Homo sapiens: one gene and its partners. The protein of the gene in region 1 interacts with the protein of each later gene in a pairwise test. Each region holds a gene or a part of one and is shown in the gene's direction. Other genes may lie near its edges. The genes, in order: CHRM5, RTN1, USP33, EPC1, EPB41L1, MSMO1 and SLC5A6.

Region 1 (2,731 bases):
TGGCTGAAGATTTTCTCCAGGCTGTTGAATTAAGGTTCTTATATTGTTTTCAGAGATCTTGCTTTCTAATCTCTTCACAGGGCAAACCTGAGCAAAATGTGGAAAACAGATTTGCTTTTGAATTTCTTCCAGAGCCCTTTTGCAGCCTCCAATTTCCCTTGTTCAGATCCCCAGTTCACACCAAGACGCAAGCAGGTCAGCTGTGCTGCCTCCAAGCAGGGGGTTGTGGGGTGAGGTGGGGGTAGAAAGTCTTTTTTTATAGGTCCTTCAAATCAGGGCCTAAAAATGACTTCTTTATTCCTCTCCAAATTCGGTCACAAATGAGAAGGCCAGAAAAGCACACTTGAGGGTGCGATGAAGCTGAAAATGATCTGAAAGCTTCATTTTTAAAAACAAAGTGTAGGTCATAGTAATACATAAAAATAAAACAGTTGACATGCATGACAGCATGAGGATTATTAAAAACCACACTTAATTGAAATCTCTAAGTGCGTATAAACAAACGGAATCAAAGGACCTTTGTGGACAAAAGTCCACAAAGAAGCAGTAGTGTGGTACACAGCAAGGATTTTAAAGATGAAGCACTCCTGTCAGACATTATTTAACTCGTTGGTTACATCTGCAGCTGGACTTAAAAATCACCAGACTTCATGCGTCTTAGTGTAGGCCGGGTCCTTTTCAGTCTCATTTGCTAAGAGGATGGAAAATTAGCTGGTTTAGTTGTCCTGGGAATTAGATATGTACCTGAGTATGGGAGAGCTTCAGCCTACCACTGAAGAGCATCATCAGCCTCTCACAGGATGTCCCACGGAGGCTTCAGGGTAGTAGAATCTCAGGCAGGACGGGACTGGTCCCTTATAAAGACTTCACGTTGACATGAAACATCTTGTAAGCAGTGCATCTGCTGAGCCTTTGTAAAGGGCAGGTTGACACCTGCAAAGAATTCGGTGGGAACAGTAATTGGCTCAGTTCTCCAGCACAGAGGCTTTCGGGCCTCCGTGATGCCAACTGGGTGTGACTTCATGAGCAAACCTGCTCTACCAGCGCCAGATAAACAGTTGAGTCTTCGTTTAAGGCTTTGATTCCTGATAAAGATGAAAACCCCTTCATGAGAATAGGCTTTTAAGCCCATGTTGGGCATTCACCATTCGCAGTTGAGAGTGAAACAAGCTAATTTAAACAAAAGAACACAAATCGGGAAAGGATGCCATGGAGGGCACTCCTCGCACACTCCGCACTTGCTTAGGACTTGGCCTTTTTTGTTCATCTTTTGTGAAATTGATTAAGAAGTGTATTGCTGGGTGTGGTGGCTGACACCTGTAATCCCAGCACTTTGGGAGGCTGAGGCAAGAGGACTGCTTGACCCTAGGGGCTCAAGACCAGCCTGGCAACATAGGGAGACCCTGTCTCTACAAAAAAAATTTTAAATACCTGGGCATTAGCAGGGCATCGTAGTGTGTGCCTGTAGACCCAGCTACTTCAGAGGTTGAAGCAGGAGGATCGCATGAGCCCAGGAGTTAGAGGTTGCAGTGAGCTATGATCACACTACTGCATTCCAGTCTAAGTGACAGAGCAAGACCCTGCCTCAAAAAAAAAAAGAGAGAGAGAGAGGTCAATGCTTCTTTTTTTATCATTGGTTTTGGAAAGCAGCCAGTTTTGCAGACTACCTATGCCTCTTGACATAGACAAAAAATATCCCAAACTACTAGGGACAACTAGACTTCTATAGAATAGCGGCTTTAGTGGGGTCCTCAGAATGAATAGACCTAATTGTAAACTACAGGGACCTGATGGGTGGGTGGGAGGCGCATGGCCTGACTTGAGATCTTAGGCCTTCTATGCCCCCAGTCTTCCAGGCTTTGTCTATAGTAAACCATGTATGACTTTGGCTAGTTACCTACTGGATGCTGTTACTTTGCTATCATTGTAATTTGTTTCCCCTTGGCTGTGAATTTGATGACTTGTCAGGGAATCTGTTTTCCATTCAATTTTTGGTTGAACAAAGCATTTTGTCAATATTCTCAGCTTTTGCTTCGCTCCTTTGGTGAATGTCCTTTGAAGACAATACTGATGCCAGCTCTTTGTAATTGTGAAATCTGTACCCAAACCTCTGGATTAGAATCTCCAGTTGTCTACTGTAAATACTGGAATTACAGCAAAGGATATGGGGACTGGGCTGCTTTTCTGTATTGTATAAGCACTATTCTAGATATTAAAGAAATTTAACCGCACAGTGGTCCAATGCAGAGCATTTAAATAAGAAAATTGTTTCAGAGTAGCCTATTAGATCCATCTATATTGGGTTTCCCACACACCTTTGCATGGCCTGGCCTTTCAAGAAAGTTGGGATTGATACACAGTATGGATACACGTCCTTCTTGCTACCTTTTGTGATTCCTCCTTCCCTCTAAGTTACCAATGACCAAACTAAGATTAAATAATGATGACAAGAGATCTGTGAGTAAAACGCTTTCCCTTCCCTATGGGACAAGGGAGGTGGGGCAGACCTGAAACCACAGTCCTTTACCGAGTGGAGACTGCACAAAAAGGGGCAGCAGCATTTCCTTGTCAACTATTTAAAGAGTCGGTGCCCCACTCCATTCCCATTGTAAGTGATACTAATTTCCATCTTCCCCACATCATTTTACTGGTAAAGTTCAAGATTATGTAAACTCTTGCCCAATAAAGACCCCAGATCGAGAGTGAGCGGAAGAAGGGAAAAAAGTTTAAT
Region 2 (3,147 bases), on another chromosome or scaffold:
GATTGGTAACCTGGAATGTATATTTTAATGAACTCTTCAGGTGACTTTTTGGCAACTAGAACTGTGTTCATAAACTATAGCAAAGAATACCAGAATAGGAGTTTGGAAACTGGAAGATAGAAGTTCTAGACCTAAGTTGTCCAATACTTAGTTTGAGTATCACAAATCATACCTATTACTTTTTCATTTGGTTTGTTGGTTGAGTCCAAAAAGAGGAGTACCTGTTATGTTCTGGACACTTCATATGATAGGTACAGAGGGTATAAAGATAAATGAAATGATCTCAGCCCTAAAAGAGCTCTTAGCCCAGTGGTGCAGACAAAATTATACAGAAATAACTATAATAAAATATAATAAGTACAGTAGAGCTATATGAAATACTAAAGTCAGAGAGATGAGGAAACAATTGTTCCTTCCTGGACAGGATAGTGGAAAGCCATTAAGATAAGGTGGCATTCAACCTGGGCCTTGAAGGATGGGTAAACAGTCATCACGTGGATGATAAGGGGAAAGACGTTGCAAGAGGAAGAGGTAATAAAGCAAAGACAGAGAAGCATGAAAATGTAAGTCATGTTTAATAGGCAACAGTCAACCAGTATGTCTAGAGCTTAACTGAGTCGAAAGATCAACTGGAAAGAATGTAGGAAGAGAGGCTGAGGCCAGGTGGTGAATGCTCTGTGGAGTTTTGATTCCAACCCAGCAGGAAATGGCCACCCCTTGATGTTTTTAAGCAGGGGATTGATATCATCAGATTTATGTTTTTTAAAGATCACTATGGCAGTCTAGTGAGAAAAGAATTGGAGAGGGGAGAGACTAGAGATGTGGCCATCAGCTAGGAGGTTATCATAATTCAAATAAAAGTGACAAGGGCATGGCCTGGTTAAAATGGAGGGAAAAGAGAGATGGCAGAGAATATAAAGTATATACAATGTACTTGTTAAATTACAATTGGAAATCAATGCTGTGAAAAGGAATGGAAAGGAAATGTTACCTATGACTAATATGGCTTCTGTAATTGAGCTTCAGGCAGAGTTGGCTCTGAATTTCCTGGTAGCTAGGACAAAAAGAGAAACTAGGCAAGTCACATGGTTCTCACTATCTATCAGAGAGGAGGAAACAACAATTCTTCCAAATAACCTGTTTTGCCTGGCACTACATTTTGAAGGAAATTTCTTGGTGGGATCTTAACTCTAAGTCCTCTTCAACCTCTGAAATTGTAATTCCACCTTAGAATAAATAATTCCAGCAAAAGAACTTACACCACTTTAGTGGTACAGTTAAGAACATGATTGTTAGAATCAGACAGACTGAGTCCATTTCTGGCATTTTTAGCTGTATGAGCTCATCATAAATGTTATTTGACTCTATGAGCCTATTTCCTTATCTGTAAATTGGAAATGTTAATACCACACAGGGTTCTTGGTGATTAAATGAGGTAATGTCTGTAAAGTATTCTTACTTGGATGTAGGAAACCCTCAATATTATATATCATTGTCATCATCATCATCATCATCCGATTACTGCTTAGAGATCGGTTCATGGGGCTTGGAGGTAGAGGACAGTCCCAGATTGGGCCAGTAGACACCAGGGCCAGTCTCTCCTCCATACTGAGTGACCCTGTCTAGGTCGTTTCACCTTTGTTTGTCTCAGTTTTCCAGCTTAAAATAGGGGTTAATAATGCATAATAACACTTCTTAGAGTTTTGAAAATGAGGAAAAAAGCCTCAAATTTCAAAAGGCAAAATAAACACTGTAGAGGAAATTAAAGCTTCGAGTAAGTGAGACCATAATAAGAAATCTGCTTTAAGTGAATACAATTCCCTATGTCTAGGTGAGTTATGTTTTAGAATGACAAAGTAGCTTGTAATTTTACCTAGAAGCTCTCTTGGTGACCTTTGATAAATCTCATGGAATAAAGGACATCCTGAAAACTCAAATTGGAAAGGAGCTGTCACGATCTTCAAATGAGAAGAAAGAAAGATTCTAGATGTTATATTTGATAAACTGAAGGCCTAATTTCAAGCAAAAATCCAGAATGAATTAGTAAAACTGTAGATACTCAGAATAGATCAGTGTATCTTCACTAAACCCTGAGATGAGATGGACTTCCCTAGCCAGTGAGTATTCTGATTTTAGTGGGGGTAGTCAGCAAGTCTTCTTGGTGTCCTTGTGGAAAAAAATGGAGATGTATGATCCAGATGATAGCACAGGTGGTAGAATTCTAGAAGATTGAAATAATAGACCCTAAAGATGTTCATTAATCCATCCAATATGTGTCTGGGCCAAGGTATGTGACACAGGGCTCTGCCTTTGATCCCATTACTTTCAACCCCATTACTTCTCATGACTATGTGAAGACAAATCAAATATCTTTGTCAAAGTTCCAGATGATGTACAGTTTGAAGCAAAAGCAAATTCAGAAGATGGCAAGCTCAAGATTCAAAATGAATCAAGGGATCTTGAGTAAGCGAGAATGCCGAATTGAAATCAATAAAATGAAATTAATAAGGAAAGTGAAGTCCTACATTTAGGTTTCTAAAAAGTCAACTTTACAGATATAGAATGCGGCGAGGGATAGATGAGAGAGGGTAACAATAAGGGTGTATGTAAAAAATACCTCGGGGGTTTTAATTGCTTGATTGGTCACAGCCAAATGTGAGTCAATGATGTGCTGAAGCATCTTTAAAAAATCAATGCAAGTTGAGTTGTTATTAGTAGGAGTACAAAGTCTAAATCAACATAGGCAACAGTCATATTATATTCCATATTGGCCATCCCATATCTGTGTTCAATTTCAGGGTTGGACATTTTAACAGATGCATTAATACATTGGAGTAATGCCACAAAGATGACCAGGGTACTGTGGTATTAGAAATCTGATAGTAATGGGCAGTGAAGAGCAAACTTTGCTGGGGATGATTACCCTGGAAAATAGATGACTTTAAAAGGACACCATAGCCATTCTCAAATACTTGGAGGTCTAACATTGCTAAAGGAGTAGGATTTCCCTTTTTCTCTCAAGAGCAGTGAATGGAAATTTTAGAAGTTCTGAGATTTGAATGAAATATGAGGGAAAAGAGTAATGATTAGAGTTGCTCAATAATAGAACCATCTGCCCCATGAAGGAGTGAGTACCCTGACATTCAT
Region 3 (2,683 bases), on another chromosome or scaffold:
ATCACTTGAACCCAAGGCGGAGGTTGCAGTGAGCTGTGATGGTGCCACTGCACTCCAGCCTGGGCAACAGAGCGAGACTCCATCTCAAAAAAAAAAAAAAAGAATTAACTATAATAATTTGCCTGAGAAATAACCAGTCTGATAATGTAGTTATAGGTCACAATTTTGTCAAGCACAAAATTATGCAATTTTTTGTTACATTTCTTTGAAAAATACATTTTGATATTTTTTCCTTTAGATCCTCCAGGTCCTATTGACAATACTAAGATTGCAGTCACTAAATGTGGTAATGTGATGCTTAGGCAAGGTAAGTTTGACTCGTATTTAAGCTTTTACTTGTGAGTGATTTGTCACTGTTAGAAATATGTTATCATTAGTCATCTATAGTACTTTTTTATTCAACTGAAGAATGTAATCCATACATTAACTAGGGCAAGTAATGAAAAGCAGCCACTTTTTTTTTATCTGAGGAAAGGTCTTAAGGCTGTTGTTAAGAGCAAAGCAAAAGCATCTCTGACTTTTTAAGACAAGCCATATGTTTCAGCTTATAACAATATGGGCTGGTAGTCTGCAGATTCATGTTCCAGAAGTTCTCAATTATCCCGAGAAGATTCATGCTGGGGGGTACATTATGAACGCTTTTGCAATATGAATATATAGGTTTGTAAACATTATTTCTTCTACGTAATTTTAAGGAGCAGATTCTGGCCAGATTTCTGAAGAAACATGGAATTTTCTGCAGTCTATTTATGGTGGAGGGCCTGAAGTTATCCTGCGACCTCCGGTTGTTCATGTTGATCCAGATATACTTCAAGCAGAAGAAAAAATTGAAGTAGAAACTCGGTCTTTGTAATTTTTAGGATGTAGAGAGTTCTAATGAGGAATCATTTTCATGTGCCCTGACATGTACACATGCGAAAACATTCCTAAAAGCGTGTTTATTTGCTTTATTTTTTTTCATCATTTATCCCATTTATTTCTTCTTAGTGGGCATTATGGAAGAATATATTAAAATGTGTAATATACCACAGGTTGGTATATTTAGTTTTAAATACTTACCATAAAGTCTTTCAGTGTAATTTTTTTTTGAGACAGAGTCTTGCTTTGTCACCCAGGCTGGAGTGCTGTGGTGTTACCTCAGCTCACTGCAGCCTCCACCTCCTGGGTTCAAGCGATTCTCCTGCCTCAGCCTCTCGAGTAGCTGGGATTACAGGCACCTGCCACCATGCCCGGCTAATTTTTGTATTTTAGTAGAGATGGGGTTTCACCATGTTGGCCAGGCTAGTCTCAAACTCCTGACCTCAGGTGATCCACCCACCTCGGCCTCCCAAAGTGCTGGGATTACAGGTGTGAGCCACAGCGCCTGGCCCAGTGTAATATTTTTGAAAGAGGAGGGACAATTGTGAAATCAGTAGGTTATCTTTAATCTTTACACTACATGCAGATCCATAGTATCCTTTGTAGTGTTGTAAATACTTTTGCTTTGAAAACTTTTTCATTGTCCTAAATCACCCTGACTCTGACCAGTCTTTCAGTTCTCCAAAAGCCCAATTTAATTGTATAGTTTTGTCATGGCTTCATATAATAAAGAGCCTATTTTAAGTTGAAAGTAGTAGTCAGAAAATTGTTAATTTCCTAAAGCTCAGGAAACTAGGGTGTCACTTTTTTTGCACTGCAGCATATACACTAACTAGCTTATTAAAATTTACAAAATGTCTTTTTGAATGTATCAAGGATATATTTAGTTTGAGTGGAATTTGTCAGCAGATATCAGTAACTTATTGCCGCTTATATTGTACAATGTTAAACTTCAATTCCTGTAACCTGGTTAGTATTAATGTCAGTGACTAAAAAACTTAGAGTTAGTTTTAGGGCACTTTTTATTTTGAGAGCATGAAGTGTGGAATGTGTCACTACGATTGTTGATAAAGCTGAGGCCACTTGCAACTTGATTTTTTAAATGAAATAGATAAAGTCTTTTTGAATAATATAGTATGCACTGCTATTTGCTTGATTATGTAATGTCAAAAGTTTAACTATATTCCAAGTACAAAAACATACTGGATTACATTGAGGATGTTGAATAGCATTCATGATGGCTTTGTTTTGGTTTGGGGCAGCTGTCACCAGCTAAAGCAATGTTGTTAAAATTAGCTCAATAAAAATGTCTTTAAAATGTAAAACTTGAATGTTGAATTTATTTGATAGATGTTAAAGGTAAAAGGTGCAAAGTTTGTTAATATTAATACCTTCTTGCTGTTCCTATTTTATTTTATTTATCTATTCTTTTGAGACAGAGTCTCACCCTTTCCCAGGCTGGAATGCAGTGTCACAGTCTTGGCTCACTGCAACCTCCGCCTCCCAGGTTCAAGTGATTCTCCTGCCTCAGCCTCCCAAGTAGCTGGGATTACAGGTATGAGCCACCACACCCAGCTAATTTTTGTATTTTTAGTAGAGATGGGGTTTCACCATGTTGGCTGGGCTAGTTTCAAACTCCTGACCTCAGGTGATCCACCTGCCTTGGCTTCCGAAAATGTTGAGATTACAGGTGTGAGCCACTGTGCCCAGCCAGTTTATTTTAAAATTTTTATTTATTTTGAGACTGGGTTATGAGACTGGCTAATTTTTATCTCTTTTTTTGGTAGAGATGGGGTTTTGCTATTTTGCTCAGGCTGGTTTCAAA
Region 4 (3,454 bases), on another chromosome or scaffold:
ATTGTATGTGCTTTTTTTTTTTTTAATTGGCAAAAAAGAGAAAAAGGTTTCCTTTTTAAAAACTGCACACACTTTTTTGGGGGGGTAATAAATGAACATTTTTTTGTTTGTTTTTTTTAGAACTGAGCTCTCCATAGACAAACATAAGTAGCATAACACAGTGTCTTTCCTCAGACATCATTCTGTACAGTAAATCAACATAAACAACTCCGTTCTTATTGACTGGATTTTTTCCAGGTGGGTTAATTGGGTGGGGAAAATTAATTAACCTTAACATTAGAGCCTCTTTTCTTCCTGTTAAACTTAAAGGATGAGTTCTTTAAAAAAAAGCAATAAACCAACCAACAACTGTAATCTTTCATATAGAGCAAATTTTTTTAATGACTACAATTAGAAAATATGTAGAACTATTAGTATATATACACAGAGCCATTAGGGATCATCTGAATGCCTTGGGAAGATATGGATTAAATAGAAACCAAATGTAATTATCAGATATTCTCTCAAGCTCAGTGCAAAGCTGAATTCCAAATCTATGGATTTTAAAAGCTGATATTATCTTTCTACACTGTGTAGAACAAGTGTCACAGCTTAAAAAAAAAATAGTGGTGTTGAAATTTGGGAAGTGAGCAGTTCTCTTTCCTGTGTTTAATTCAGGAAGTTTAATTTTTTTTTTCTTTAAATTCATGCCACTCTTGTTAAATGTGGTAGCAGAAACGCAGAAATTTTCATTTGGAAGTGATCTTTAGCAGGATCATGATCCTTTGTCAGATGCTTCAATTTTGCACAGATTTAATGCAGAATTTTTGTTTTAGTACTGTAAGACATACATGACAGCTGGGCATTTTTATAAAGTGTTTCTTTATTTTATGTTCAGCATTTACAGCCGAACAATACCAGCAACATCAACAGCAACTGGCACTCATGCAGAAACAGCAGCTTGCACAAATTCAGCAACAGCAAGCAAATAGTAATTCCTCCACCAACACATCACAGGTGAGGGATTTGTCTGTCTTATGATTATCCCTCATTGTTTCCCACCAGAGTTCATCTCTAATTACCAACTGTTGTCATAGAACCTTGCATCTAACCAGCAGAAAAGTGGCTTTCGCCTGAATATACAGGGTTTAGAAAGAACACTACAGGTGAGTATGGAAGCTGTTGCCTCTGCTCCCTATTTTAAAAAGTAAAACTAAAGCACTTAGTTAAATGAGATGAAGATACTGTCTTCCCGTCTGACCTGTAGTCCATTAATGTACCTCTTGAATATATAACCCCACCCAGTTCATTCTCTTGGGCATGTTAATTATTATTAAGGCTTTTAACATTATGCAAAAATAACCTCTCCAACTGTTGAAAGAGATAACTTTTAAACCTAAAGCATGATAAACGTTTGCCAGTTAAACACATGTAGGGCATAAAGGCTGAGGTTTGAGTCCCTGCATCTTGCAGGAAAAATATATTTTTAAAAAGTTGAGGGGCCTATCAATTTCTAGGTTAAATTATGTGATATTTTGTTACTTCCATTTCTAAAGGGATAGTTATCTTATCCCAAAGGTGCCTTTCATTGTGTGTGTATACATATGTGTGTGTGTATAAGTTAGGTGAAGGAAGTTTACATATTCATTTATTCATTATATGGATTTGCAAATCACTGAAATGTTTACTAGCATATTTCTTGTCCAACATTTTGTGTTGGAGGTTTGCTGTTTCCACATTATAGAAGGCTTATTTTGGTAATTGACTTATACATATTATATATTGTCACATATGAAGCAAAATTTATAACTTAGATTACTTTTCACTTATCAAATATATGACTATCAAAAGAGATATAATTACTGTTGCATCTCAAGGTACCAAAATAGAAAGATTTCAGTGGTTTGCCATTTTTACTTATATTCAAACTGATTTTGGTATGCATGTGTAGTTTTGATATTGATTTGATACTAAGTGATACTGATTAGATTTCTTTTGTATTTTCTTTTTAGGGTTTTGTTTCTAAGACTTTGGATTCTGCTAGTGCACAGTTTGCTGCTTCTGCTTTGGTGACATCAGAACAACTGATGGGATTCAAGATGAAGGATGATGTGGTGCTTGGAATCGGGGTGAATGGCGTCCTTCCAGCCTCAGGTAAGAATAAAGACATTTAAATTGTTTGGGTTATATTTATAACATATATCTATAATATAAACAGCAAAGTTGTACATTGTTTAGATGTTTCTTTCTTTTTCTCTCTAGGAGTATACAAGGGCTTACACCTCAGTAGTACTACACCAACAGCACTTGTACATACAAGTCCATCAACGGCAGGTTCAGCTTTGTTACAGCCTTCAAATATTACACAGACTTCAAGTTCCCACAGTGCACTGAGTCATCAAGTAACTGCTGCCAATTCTGCAACAACTCAGGTTCTGATTGGGAACAACATTCGATTAACTGTACCTTCATCAGTTGCCACTGTAAACTCTATTGCCCCAATAAATGCACGACATATACCTAGGACTTTAAGTGCTGTTCCATCATCTGCCTTAAAGCTGGCCGCTGCAGCAAACTGTCAAGTTTCCAAGGTCCCATCTTCATCCTCTGTAGATTCAGTTCCAAGGTGAGTAGTTATTTTTGCCTAACATACCTGGAATAAGAGATCTAACTTCAGTCCTCCAGCATCGTTCTTTACCTATTTCTTTGTGTTTCTTGTTCTTTTCCTTTTATACATTGAAAATGTATAGTTGAGAATTGATCACTTATTTATTCAAGAACTAAACAGTTCTTGAACACTTAATTCAATATTAAGAATTTGAACTAACTGGTATAGTGAATGTTGCATATATGATTTGGAACATCCCTTTCTTACTATAACAATAGTTATACCAGGTGCAGTGGCTCACGCCTGTAATCCTAGCACTTTGGGAGGCAGAGGCAGGCAGATCACCTAAGGTCAGGAGTTCGAGAACAGCCGATCCAACATGGTGAAAGGCCACCTCTACTAAAAATACAAAATCACCCGGGCATGGTGGCGCATGCCTGTAATCTCAGCTACTCAGGAGGCTGAGGCAGGAGAATCGCTTGAACCTGGGAGGTGGAGGTTGCAACCAAGATCGCACCATTGCACTCTGGCCAGGGCAACAAGAGCTAAACTCTGTCTCAAAAAAAAAAAAAAGCGTATAATGCTCTCAGTTTTCTTCCGTCTTTGGATGGAAGGAGTTCTCCTGAGAGCGTTTCTTTTATGACTTTTTTTCCACAGCTTCTCATGTAAACAGGTAGAATTGATAGAAACCCCTGCCCCATCACTGGTATGCTAAGCTATTCTTTTTTTTTTTTTTTTTTTTTTTTTTTTGAGACCGAGTCTCGCTCTGTTGCCCAGGCTGGAGTGCAGTGGCACAATCTCAGCTCACTGCAATCTCTGCCTCCCAGGTTCAAGTGATTCTGTCTCAGCCTTCTGAGTAGATGGGAT
Region 5 (2,780 bases), on another chromosome or scaffold:
CTGTCTTCCTTCTTAAAGTTCTTCCTTCTTGAAGTTCTTGCTATGAGCGTGGAAAGTCACTCATGTCACACAGAACCTTTTCCCTTCTCTCCCTGCAACCTTGCAGGTCAGACGTCTGGTTTCTGCTCCATCTTCTCCCACTGGCCCACCTCCTTCAGAGAGGACCTGTCTCCCAAACACCACCAGCAAGAGGGCAGCACTTGCCTAGCTTCCTAACCTTCCAAAATTTAATGGGAAAAAATTGACCTGTTCCAAAACAGGAACCTTGGGTTTTAGTCTTGGTTTTGCCAACTTACTAAGCCTGAAGCCTCTGGGCCTCGGTTTTCCTATGTGTCAAATGAGCCAAGAAAGATCCATTTTCTGTGATTCCGTTAGCACTCGACTGCATGCAAGTAGCAGAAATGATGTTTCATCCATTAAATGGTTTTGAGTAGTTGCTATGTGCCAGGCACAGTGTTGAACACTGGAAAGACAAGAGTTAAAAGATAGCCCTTACCCTCAAGGAGATCAGAGTAGTGTGTGGTTAAATTAACAACAGCAACAATCATCATAATAAGAACAGCCAGTATTTATTCAGCACTTACTATATGCTGGGCCCTTGCTTCAGTTCCTCCCTATAATGGGAGGCAGAACCTATTTTACGGAGGAAGCAATTGAGGCTTAAAGAAGTTAAGAAACTTGCCAGGCACTGTGGCGTGCACCTGTAATCCCAGCTACTTGGGAGGCTGAGGCAGAAGGATCACTTGCAGCCAGGAATTCAAGGCTGTAATGTGCATTGATTGTGCCTGTGAATAGCTATTGCACTCCAGCCTGAGCAACATAGTAAGACTCGTCTGTTAAAAACTGTTTAAAGTAAAGGAAGTTAAGAAACTCACCCAAGATTACAGAGCTAGCAGGCCCATAGAGTGGGATTTGAACTCAGGGAGTCTGATTTCAGAGCCTGCTCCTTTAAACACTGAGTTTTGGAGCCAAACCTGGAATCCAGACTTCATTTCTTTATTTAAACACTGCTGTCTGTGGTTTAATCTCCAGGACACAGCAAGCCCACGGACAACAGAAAGGAAAACCAAATGAAAAAAGAACATCTGCAATCGTGACTAAACATTTCTTAGAGCTGACAAGATAGGAAGAAAAAGTAAAATGATGATGATCTTAGCTTCTCGGTGTTAAAGGACATTTTAACACATTGTCAGGCCAAAGTAAAAGATTACCACCTCCCTGGAAACAAGCGAGCAAACACACATGGGCTCTGGAATCCAACAGATGTGGGTTCGGTTCTCTGCTGCCACACACAAGCTGCGTGGCCTTGGAGTGCAATAGCTACTCACAGGCATGATGATTACACATTACAGCCTTGAGTTTCTCACCTCAAGAGATCCTTCCACCTCAGCCTCCCAAGTAGCTGGGATTACAGGTGCAAGTCACTCTACCTTGCTGAGTCACAATAAAGGGCATATGGTAAAGGGTAGCAAAAACAACCTCTTGCCATGTATTTTAAAACAAGTGACAGAAGTTACTAATTTTTCTTGTCCTCTTCCTTCCTTTCCCCCCACTCCCCACCCCCCATTCTACCCCATGCCTCTGGCTTCCAGGAATCCTGACCTCTGTGAAGAGATCCTGGCATTTCTGGTCCAACCCAAGCCAGAGAACCATTAAGAAGGGGCCTTCATTCTGGATTCTCCGACGCAACACTGACGTCCCAGCTGCGACGTACTGTCACTGATGAGAGACTGGGAAGGGAAAAGCATATATATATAGATATATAGAGATATAGATATATATACAGGAAACACCGCATCCTTGCACTGCTGCTGGGGCTGGCAGAGCAGTTGGCTGACAGCAACAACCGACATCTGAACACCTACATTTCCTTTGCAGACAAATTGAAGAACTGGTGGGATTTTTTTCAAGAAAAAAAATTATATAATAACTATAATCCCTTGCTCACCCCTTTCCCCCGCCAAATAAGAAACGCAAGCCAGACCACGATGATTGTAGAAGTCCCTCCCGCCCTGGTTCTGCACGTTACAGTTAGCAGACGAGCAATTCCATTTGTTCTTCTCCAGCATCTCTAAGGCCCACTTGAATGCAAAGGAAAACACTTGCACAGCAAAGCAAGAGAAGTCACAGCAGCAAGACACGCACAGTCAACCATTTTCCGAGAAAAAAAGAAAATTCCCCACTTGGAAAGAAAGAGGAGGAACACTGGATTCTTACTTTCTGGATCTTGACACTGGGCTGCAAAACCTACCTTCCTCTCTCCCGCCTCCCCTCACCCTCAACTCTCAATGTCTTGCTGTCATTTTCTGTCTCGGCTCCCTCCTCCCCCTTCCCCCTTCCCCCACCCCACACCCTTCACCCTCTGTGTCCTGGTCCTTCTGAGGGCCACTGCAGATGACTCTCCTTTGAAATGAGAAAAAGAAAAGAAAGCAAGAACAGAAAACGAAGCCACAGGAAGGGAAGTAGACATTGTATGCTTATGGTTTCTCATTATGAAGGTGCAGCTTGTAGGAGGTTTGTACGGATGTGCTTTGAAGTTATGTATATTACATATAACAGGAAAAAATATTAAAATAAACAGTGCTGGTAAGTATGAAGCTGACATTCTAAAATTATAATTATCTGACTGTGATTGATGTATCCTGAGGTTCCTAGATCTCACTGAACTGGCCCAGCTAAGGAGACCTGGACTCTGGGTGTGGGTTGGCTCACAGTAGGGGCTGACGGGTTCAGTGTAGTAATACTGTGTGTGGTGTTTGTAATTGGTTGATTGGTGGGGA
Region 6 (2,998 bases), on another chromosome or scaffold:
TTATATAAAGTTAACATAACTGACGTAGAATTAAGGTCCAACATAAACAGAGAACAAATTAGGTCAAGTTAAACTCTGATAGCAGAGACTAATATTAGATATTGTGATTTTTCTTCGTAGGATAAGCCAGAGACATGGGAAAACCAATGGAAGTGTTTCAAAGTTCTTCTCTTTAATCACTTCTGTATCCAGCTGCCTTTGATTTGTGGAACCTATTATTTTACAGAGTATTTCAATATTCCTTATGATTGGGAAAGAATGCCAAGATGGTACGTAGATAAAAATTTGGCTTTTACACCCAATTGTGGCTTATTCAGTTAAGTTATACTTAATGTTTACCCGTTTTCTTAATTTTAGTTAATGTTTGTTCTAAACTTTGGAAGTAAATAAATAGTAGAAAAGTAAACCACAGTAAAATCTTAAAATGTTTCCATTTTTACATCTTTTAAATATTTTATTGGAAGGTGAGCTTCTAGTATCAGAAGTTTCCATAACGTCTTTTGTATGTTTATATACATGTATAAGTGCTTATGTTGACAAAAATATATTACATTTTAATTTTAAAATGAATGAAATATATGAGAATCATTTATGAGGTTTATAGAAATTGTGTTTACATGAACAAAAATATGTATGTGTATATATATATATATATATATATACACACATATATATATACACACACATATATATACTCATGCGTCACTTAACGGATATCTCTTGAGAAAAGTGTCATGAGGCAAGTTGTGTGAACATTGTAATGAAATGAAATTGGTCTAATGGGCAGTCTCTTTAACCTTATATCAAGTTATGTAGCTGTATCTGGTGGTTTTGAGAATTTATTTATGAATATATCCAATTAGGTCAACCTGGTAAGTGGGTGGGTGGTTTTATGTAATGTCTCAAGCAGTGATCCCAACTAAAAGTCTGGATAGTTTAAGTAAAAATTATTTCTTACACATTACAACATTTTTATCTTAAAGGTATTTTCTTTTGGCAAGATGCTTTGGTTGTGCAGTCATTGAAGATACTTGGCACTATTTTCTGCATAGACTCTTACACCACAAAAGAATATACAAGTATATTCATAAAGTTCATCATGAGTTTCAGGTATGTGAGAGTTATATTTAATTCTTTCTGTTAGAGGCAAAATGTCTATTTTAATTGCCTGAGCATTTTTCTAAAATTGTTGGTGACGTTTTTATTTTCTTTTCCTTTGGCATGATTATTAAGAACAATACACACACATACAAACAAGCCATTTCTACACATTGTTTTCATTATTTAAATTTCATGGTAAATTGAGATCTGAAAGAAAAATATTATATGAAAGTTCGGACTTCCATCCTTGTGGACAGTGCTACACTGGCACAGCTAGATCCTCACATTGCTAACTCCCACAAAAACAGTAACTTCTATGAGCACTGCTTTTTTTTTTTTTTTTTTTTTTTTTGAGATAGAGTTTTGCTCTTGTTGCCCAGGCTGGACTGCAATGGCATGATCTCAGCTCACTGCAACCTTCACCTCCTGGGTTCAAGCAATTCTCCTGCCTCAGCCTTTCAGGTAGCTGGGATTACAGGCATGCGTCACCACGCGTGGCTAATTTTGTATTTTTAGTAGAGACAGGATTTCACTATGTTGGTCAGGCTGGTCTCGAACTCCTGACCTCAGGTGATCCACCCGCCTTGGACTCGCAAAGTGCTGGGATTACAGGCGTGAGCCACCATGCCCGGCCAATTAGAATTGCTTTGATGTAGCTTTGTCAACTGGTTATGTGAGTATGTTTTGCATTGACCGTGATTACATGGTGTGCCAAATCAAGCCTCTCTTTATTAGAAGAACAAATATAAATACTTAAGTCAAAATTAGAGTTCAAGTCAATTATTTAATGCCTTTATCTTAAACCATCAAAGACAGCAAGATTTTATATCCCTAGACTTTTGATGTGGAGTAAGGTATTTTTATTGAGAATTGCTAGTATTATTTATAAGTGTATGACTAGATAAATCATCACTACATATAGAATCAATATAACTTTGTAAAACTTTATGCATAAATAGGATATATATATTAGTGAAGTCTCCAGTGAAGCAGAATCATTGGGGTATATATATGCAGAGAGAGATTTATTTTAAGGAATCAGCTCATGCAAGTGTGCGGCTGTCAAGTCTGAAATCTGTAAAGCAGGCTACAGACTAGAAATCCAGGTAAGAATTGTTGCAGCCTTGGGTCCAAATTCCATGGAGCAGCAAGTTGGAAACTCAGGCAGGGTTTCAGTGTTGCAGTCTCGAGAATCCTTCTTCAGGAAACCTCAGCCTTTTATCCTGAAGGCCTTCAAATGATTGGATGAAGCCCACCCTCATTATGAAGGGTAATCACCTTTACTCAGTCTACTGATTTAAATGTTAACAACATCTAAAAAATACCTTCACAACAACATCTAGACTGGTATTTAATCAAACAGTTGGATATCATAGCCTAGCCAAGTTGACACATAAAATTGACCATCACAATAGCTAAGAAATTAAGAATTTCTTATCTGTTTGTCTTAGGCTCCATTTGGAATGGAAGCTGAATATGCACATCCTTTGGAGACTCTAATTCTTGGAACTGGATTTTTCATTGGAATCGTGCTTTTGTGTGATCATGTAATTCTTCTTTGGGCATGGGTGACCATTCGTTTATTAGAAACTATTGATGTCCATAGGTGAGTATTAATTTCTGTTCAGGTATAAAGCATAATGAAATATATTTATTTTCATGGCCATAAGATTATCATATTTCTAAGGAGACTAATAGGAGAAGTTAATCTTCTTAATGTTATATTAAGAAAACATAACTGTTGGATAAAAGTTTAAATAATAGATGTTTTTACATTCTAGCCTATGCTGTTATAATTTTTATAGTGATAATGTGTTATTAGGGCAAGTATATATTCAGGACCAGCAATTTCCTTATCCTTCTGTAATAAACCTAAACTTAACTCATATTTGAAAAA
Region 7 (3,500 bases), on another chromosome or scaffold:
TACCCCAGAGGATTGCCTTTGAAGACAATATGATACGCTTGGAGAACAGACAGGGTGGATGGTGAATCCCTAGACCTGGGTTCTAATTTATGCTCTGACAATAGTCGGCTCTGTGCTTTTGGAAAGGTCACTTGAACCATCTGAGCCTTAGCGTGTTTATCTGTGAAATCGTCAGTGGTGGGGGGTTGGTTGTAATAGTGGTGTCCAAAGATTTAAGATTTTAAATATTATGATCCCTTCCCTCTTTCTCTGAGGATTGTGGTGTATTCTTGGGGGATTAACATTTCTTGTGCAGGAGTTAGAAAATCAACTTTCAACTTTCCCATGTTTTCAGTTCCTTCTTTCCAACTCCCTCCCGCACAGAGTGCCAAGAGTACTTTAGGCTGAAAGGCTAATCCATCTAGGAATGCTGTTGAATATGAGCTCCCTCTTCCCTGTTCTGGAGCCTCTAGGGCTGAGTTGGAGTTTGGGGGCCATAGGGTGATAGGGCCATTTGGAACACAGCCATTGGTTCCCTGAAGGGGCCAGAACAAATGACTGCTGAGCTTCACCCCACCCCCAATTCCTGATCTCTCACCTCAGCTACTCATAGAGCCAGATCCTCAGCTCTGCAGCTCCAGGCAACTCTGCCTCAGAACAGGGATTGCTTCTCCAGGTAGGTGTCTGTCCCCAGCAGGATACGACCACTCTCTTTGGCTGGTCCCTTTGCCTCTCAGCTCCGTGACTGGGTTGCTTCTCTCCAGAATGGAGAATCGTCATTCTGAAACCCTGACTCCAGCATGGTGCCCTCTCACCTTTCCCCTCTCACTTTTGAATCCAGCCGCTCTTCCTGCGTCTGCTGTTGACTGTGATGTTGCAGGTAGAGGGGCTGAGAGGTGGGTGGCAGCACTTATCTAGTGGTGTTGGGGAGAACCTTAAGAAAGGGGTTGGCCTGGGGACGCCTGAAATGGAGTCTGTGGCTGCCACAGAGGCAGTCTCACTGATGATCAGTTAGAAGGGTGACACTGGGGATCACAGGAGGCGAGGGCCGAGGCCAGGGGCAGTAGGGGAAGCCCTGCTGCCATTAGTCTCCATGCTGTGTTTCCTGCTGGGCTGTGGCGCCAGGCTGGGCTCTGCTGGCTTAGTGTATTGTAGTGACTGGGTCTGTGCCTTCAAGTGGGGCTGGGAAATTCTGCTAAGAAACTTAGGCTAGAGTTTATTTTTCTTTTGGTACTCGGGTGGAGACCTAAGAAGGTTGTTGAATTTCACAGCTGTGCATACTCAAAGGTCCTGGCCAAGTTATATTGTCTCCTGGCTGTCGCACTCTGATGCTTCTCCCTCACTTATGTCCCCTACCAAACCCATACCAGGGCCTCTAGACCTTGAAGGGCTACCACTATGCTGGCTGGTCCACTTCTGATGGCATGCGATGTACAAGGCCCAAGGGTGAATGGCTACCAAGGCCAGATAGGCCTCACTAAGAGCTAATTCCTTTGCAGCTCACCCTGGACAGTATCACTCCGTGGAGGAAGACTGTGAGACTGTGGCTGGAAGCCAGATTGTAGCCACACATCCGCCCCTGCCCTACCCCAGAGCCCTGGAGCAGCAACTGGCTGCAGATCACAGACACAGTGAGGATATGAGTGTAGGGGTGAGCACCTCAGCCCCTCTTTCCCCAACCTCGGGCACAAGCGTGGGCATGTCTACCTTCTCCATCATGGACTATGTGGTGTTCGTCCTGCTGCTGGTTCTCTCTCTTGCCATTGGGCTCTACCATGCTTGTCGTGGCTGGGGCCGGCATACTGTTGGTGAGCTGCTGATGGCGGACCGCAAAATGGGCTGCCTTCCGGTGGCACTGTCCCTGCTGGCCACCTTCCAGTCAGCCGTGGCCATCCTGGGTGTGCCGTCAGAGATCTACCGATTTGGGACCCAATATTGGTTCCTGGGCTGCTGCTACTTTCTGGGGCTGCTGATACCTGCACACATCTTCATCCCCGTTTTCTACCGCCTGCATCTCACCAGTGCCTATGAGGTGAGCAGGGACAGAAGGGAGAAGTGCGTGGGACACGGGTTGGGGTGGAGAGGAGGGACAGGCACATAGGAAGGACCTGGGACCCTAGACCTCCTCCACCTAATGAGAGGGACAGAAAACTCATTGTGTGTTTATAATTCTTTCTCAGTGATGTTAGGTATAGGGGCAGGATTGGAGAGGAGGGTGCTATGCCGAGTAGGACTCAGAGTGGGTATGGGTTGGATATTCCCTCATGTTCCTGAGCATCTTGAGGGAATTTGTCTGTGAGTTGTCGGGGTGAAGTCAGGAGAAAAATCTTTTTTTCTGTATACCCAGTACCTGGAGCTTCGATTCAATAAAACTGTGCGAGTGTGTGGAACTGTGACCTTCATCTTTCAGATGGTAAGCAGAATGAGGATAGAAACCGAGCCTAGGGCATGTTGGGGGACCTGAACGCAAGCATGCTGAGGGAATTGGAGTCTCCCCTGCTCTCAGATTGGCAGGATTGAAATTCCTGCTAGAGGTTAGCATCTGTGAGGACCCCAGAGGCATCCTGCTGCCCATGCCTTCCAATTCCAGCACAGATACTGTGGTGGCAGCAAGCCAGAATTTGAGAGGAGAAGGAAGAGGGAAGTGAGCCTAGGTGAGGGGAAGCCATGGGCATATTGGCGCTGAGGCCCATCTTTCTTCCTCTCTCTTCCCACCATTCTCCGGCCCCCATCACATTTTTTCCACATGCAACAGGTGATCTACATGGGAGTTGTGCTCTATGCTCCGTCATTGGCTCTCAATGCAGGTGAGGAGTCACACAGCCCCTGGCTTTCAGCCGTGGTAGGTTAGGAAAGCACCTTTGGGAGAGGCAGATGGAGGAGCGTATGTGGAAAAGAACCTGACCTTGAATGGGGAATTAATTCACCGCTTGGGCCCTTGGGTGGGTCTCTACCAGAGGAAGGCTTGGTCCACCTCAATTGACAGCTAGTAACATGTTACCATGCCCTATCTGAACTGGTTAGTCAATATCTTTTGGTGGAGCTCTGCAAACATTTTTCTCCGTTGTGGTGAATGATTTATTTCATTGTTAATGACCAATGCTTTATCTCTGTGGCATGACGTGATTGCCCTACCAGGGCTTCTCCCCTGGGGAACCCTTTTCCAGGGATAAGAATGTGGCTTCTATGCTTACAGTGACTGGCTTTGATCTGTGGCTGTCCGTGCTGGCCCTGGGCATTGTCTGTACCGTCTATACAGCTCTGGTAAGTGCAGTAAGCCGTGGTGTGGGGAGGGGAAGGGATGAAGTAAGGAGGGGACATGGGAAGAGAAGGAAAAGAAGAGATAAGCTGAGAATATAGATGAGGAGAATAGGTGAAATTCTGGGGTGGTAAGATTTATGATAGGATTTAGCAGTGGGGATGGTATATGAAGGTAGAGGATGGGATGGGAATGATGTCAACAGGGTCACAGCAATTACATGCCTAATGGCAGGAGAGTCCCCTCACTGGTAGTATGTTCT

The links.
Region 2: the proteins of CHRM5 (region 1) and RTN1 interact in a two-hybrid assay, tested with the Homo sapiens proteins (one large-scale study listed by BioGRID and IntAct).
Region 3: the proteins of CHRM5 (region 1) and USP33 interact in a two-hybrid assay, tested with the Homo sapiens proteins (one large-scale study listed by BioGRID and IntAct).
Region 4: the proteins of CHRM5 (region 1) and EPC1 interact in a two-hybrid assay, tested with the Homo sapiens proteins (one large-scale study listed by BioGRID and IntAct).
Region 5: the proteins of CHRM5 (region 1) and EPB41L1 interact in a two-hybrid assay, tested with the Homo sapiens proteins (one large-scale study listed by BioGRID and IntAct).
Region 6: the proteins of CHRM5 (region 1) and MSMO1 interact in a two-hybrid assay, tested with the Homo sapiens proteins (one large-scale study listed by BioGRID and IntAct).
Region 7: the proteins of CHRM5 (region 1) and SLC5A6 interact in a two-hybrid assay, tested with the Homo sapiens proteins (one large-scale study listed by BioGRID and IntAct).

Annotation. Positions count from the first base shown.
Region 1 is NC_000015.10:34,065,228-34,067,958, forward strand, and holds the end of CHRM5 (muscarinic acetylcholine receptor M5), read left to right. Parts: 3' UTR 1-744; coding exon of another isoform or gene 745-786; 3' UTR 787-2,231; downstream 2,232-2,731. UniProt on the Homo sapiens protein: The muscarinic acetylcholine receptor mediates various cellular responses, including inhibition of adenylate cyclase, breakdown of phosphoinositides and modulation of potassium channels through the action of G proteins.
Region 2 is NC_000014.9:59,598,630-59,601,776, reverse strand, and holds part of RTN1 (reticulon-1), read left to right. Parts: intron 1-3,147. UniProt on the Homo sapiens protein: Inhibits amyloid precursor protein processing, probably by blocking BACE1 activity.
Region 3 is NC_000001.11:77,695,487-77,698,169, reverse strand, and holds the end of USP33 (ubiquitin carboxyl-terminal hydrolase 33), read left to right. Parts: intron 1-238; coding exon 239-307; intron 308-695; coding exon 696-853; 3' UTR 854-2,183; downstream 2,184-2,683. UniProt on the Homo sapiens protein: Deubiquitinating enzyme involved in various processes such as centrosome duplication, cellular migration and beta-2 adrenergic receptor/ADRB2 recycling.
Region 4 is NC_000010.11:32,270,705-32,274,158, reverse strand, and holds part of EPC1 (enhancer of polycomb homolog 1), read left to right. Parts: intron 1-120; exon of another isoform or gene 121-237; intron 238-877; coding exon 878-996; intron 997-1,044; exon of another isoform or gene 1,045-1,076; coding exon of another isoform or gene 1,077-1,145; intron 1,146-1,991; coding exon 1,992-2,133; intron 2,134-2,241; coding exon 2,242-2,605; intron 2,606-3,454. UniProt on the Homo sapiens protein: Component of the NuA4 histone acetyltransferase (HAT) complex, a multiprotein complex involved in transcriptional activation of select genes principally by acetylation of nucleosomal histones H4 and H2A.
Region 5 is NC_000020.11:36,227,740-36,230,519, forward strand, and holds part of EPB41L1 (band 4.1-like protein 1), read left to right. Parts: intron 1-1,592; coding exon 1,593-1,601; 3' UTR 1,602-2,780. UniProt on the Homo sapiens protein: May function to confer stability and plasticity to neuronal membrane via multiple interactions, including the spectrin-actin-based cytoskeleton, integral membrane channels and membrane-associated guanylate kinases.
Region 6 is NC_000004.12:165,337,669-165,340,666, forward strand, and holds part of MSMO1 (methylsterol monooxygenase 1), read left to right. Parts: intron 1-120; coding exon 121-269; intron 270-983; coding exon 984-1,110; intron 1,111-2,552; coding exon 2,553-2,707; intron 2,708-2,998. UniProt on the Homo sapiens protein: Catalyzes the three-step monooxygenation required for the demethylation of 4,4-dimethyl and 4alpha-methylsterols, which can be subsequently metabolized to cholesterol.
Region 7 is NC_000002.12:27,205,769-27,209,268, reverse strand, and holds part of SLC5A6 (sodium-dependent multivitamin transporter), read left to right. Parts: intron 1-1,478; 5' UTR 1,479-1,618; coding exon 1,619-2,011; intron 2,012-2,326; coding exon 2,327-2,392; intron 2,393-2,734; coding exon 2,735-2,786; intron 2,787-3,175; coding exon 3,176-3,243; intron 3,244-3,500. UniProt on the Homo sapiens protein: Sodium-dependent multivitamin transporter that mediates the electrogenic transport of pantothenate, biotin, lipoate and iodide.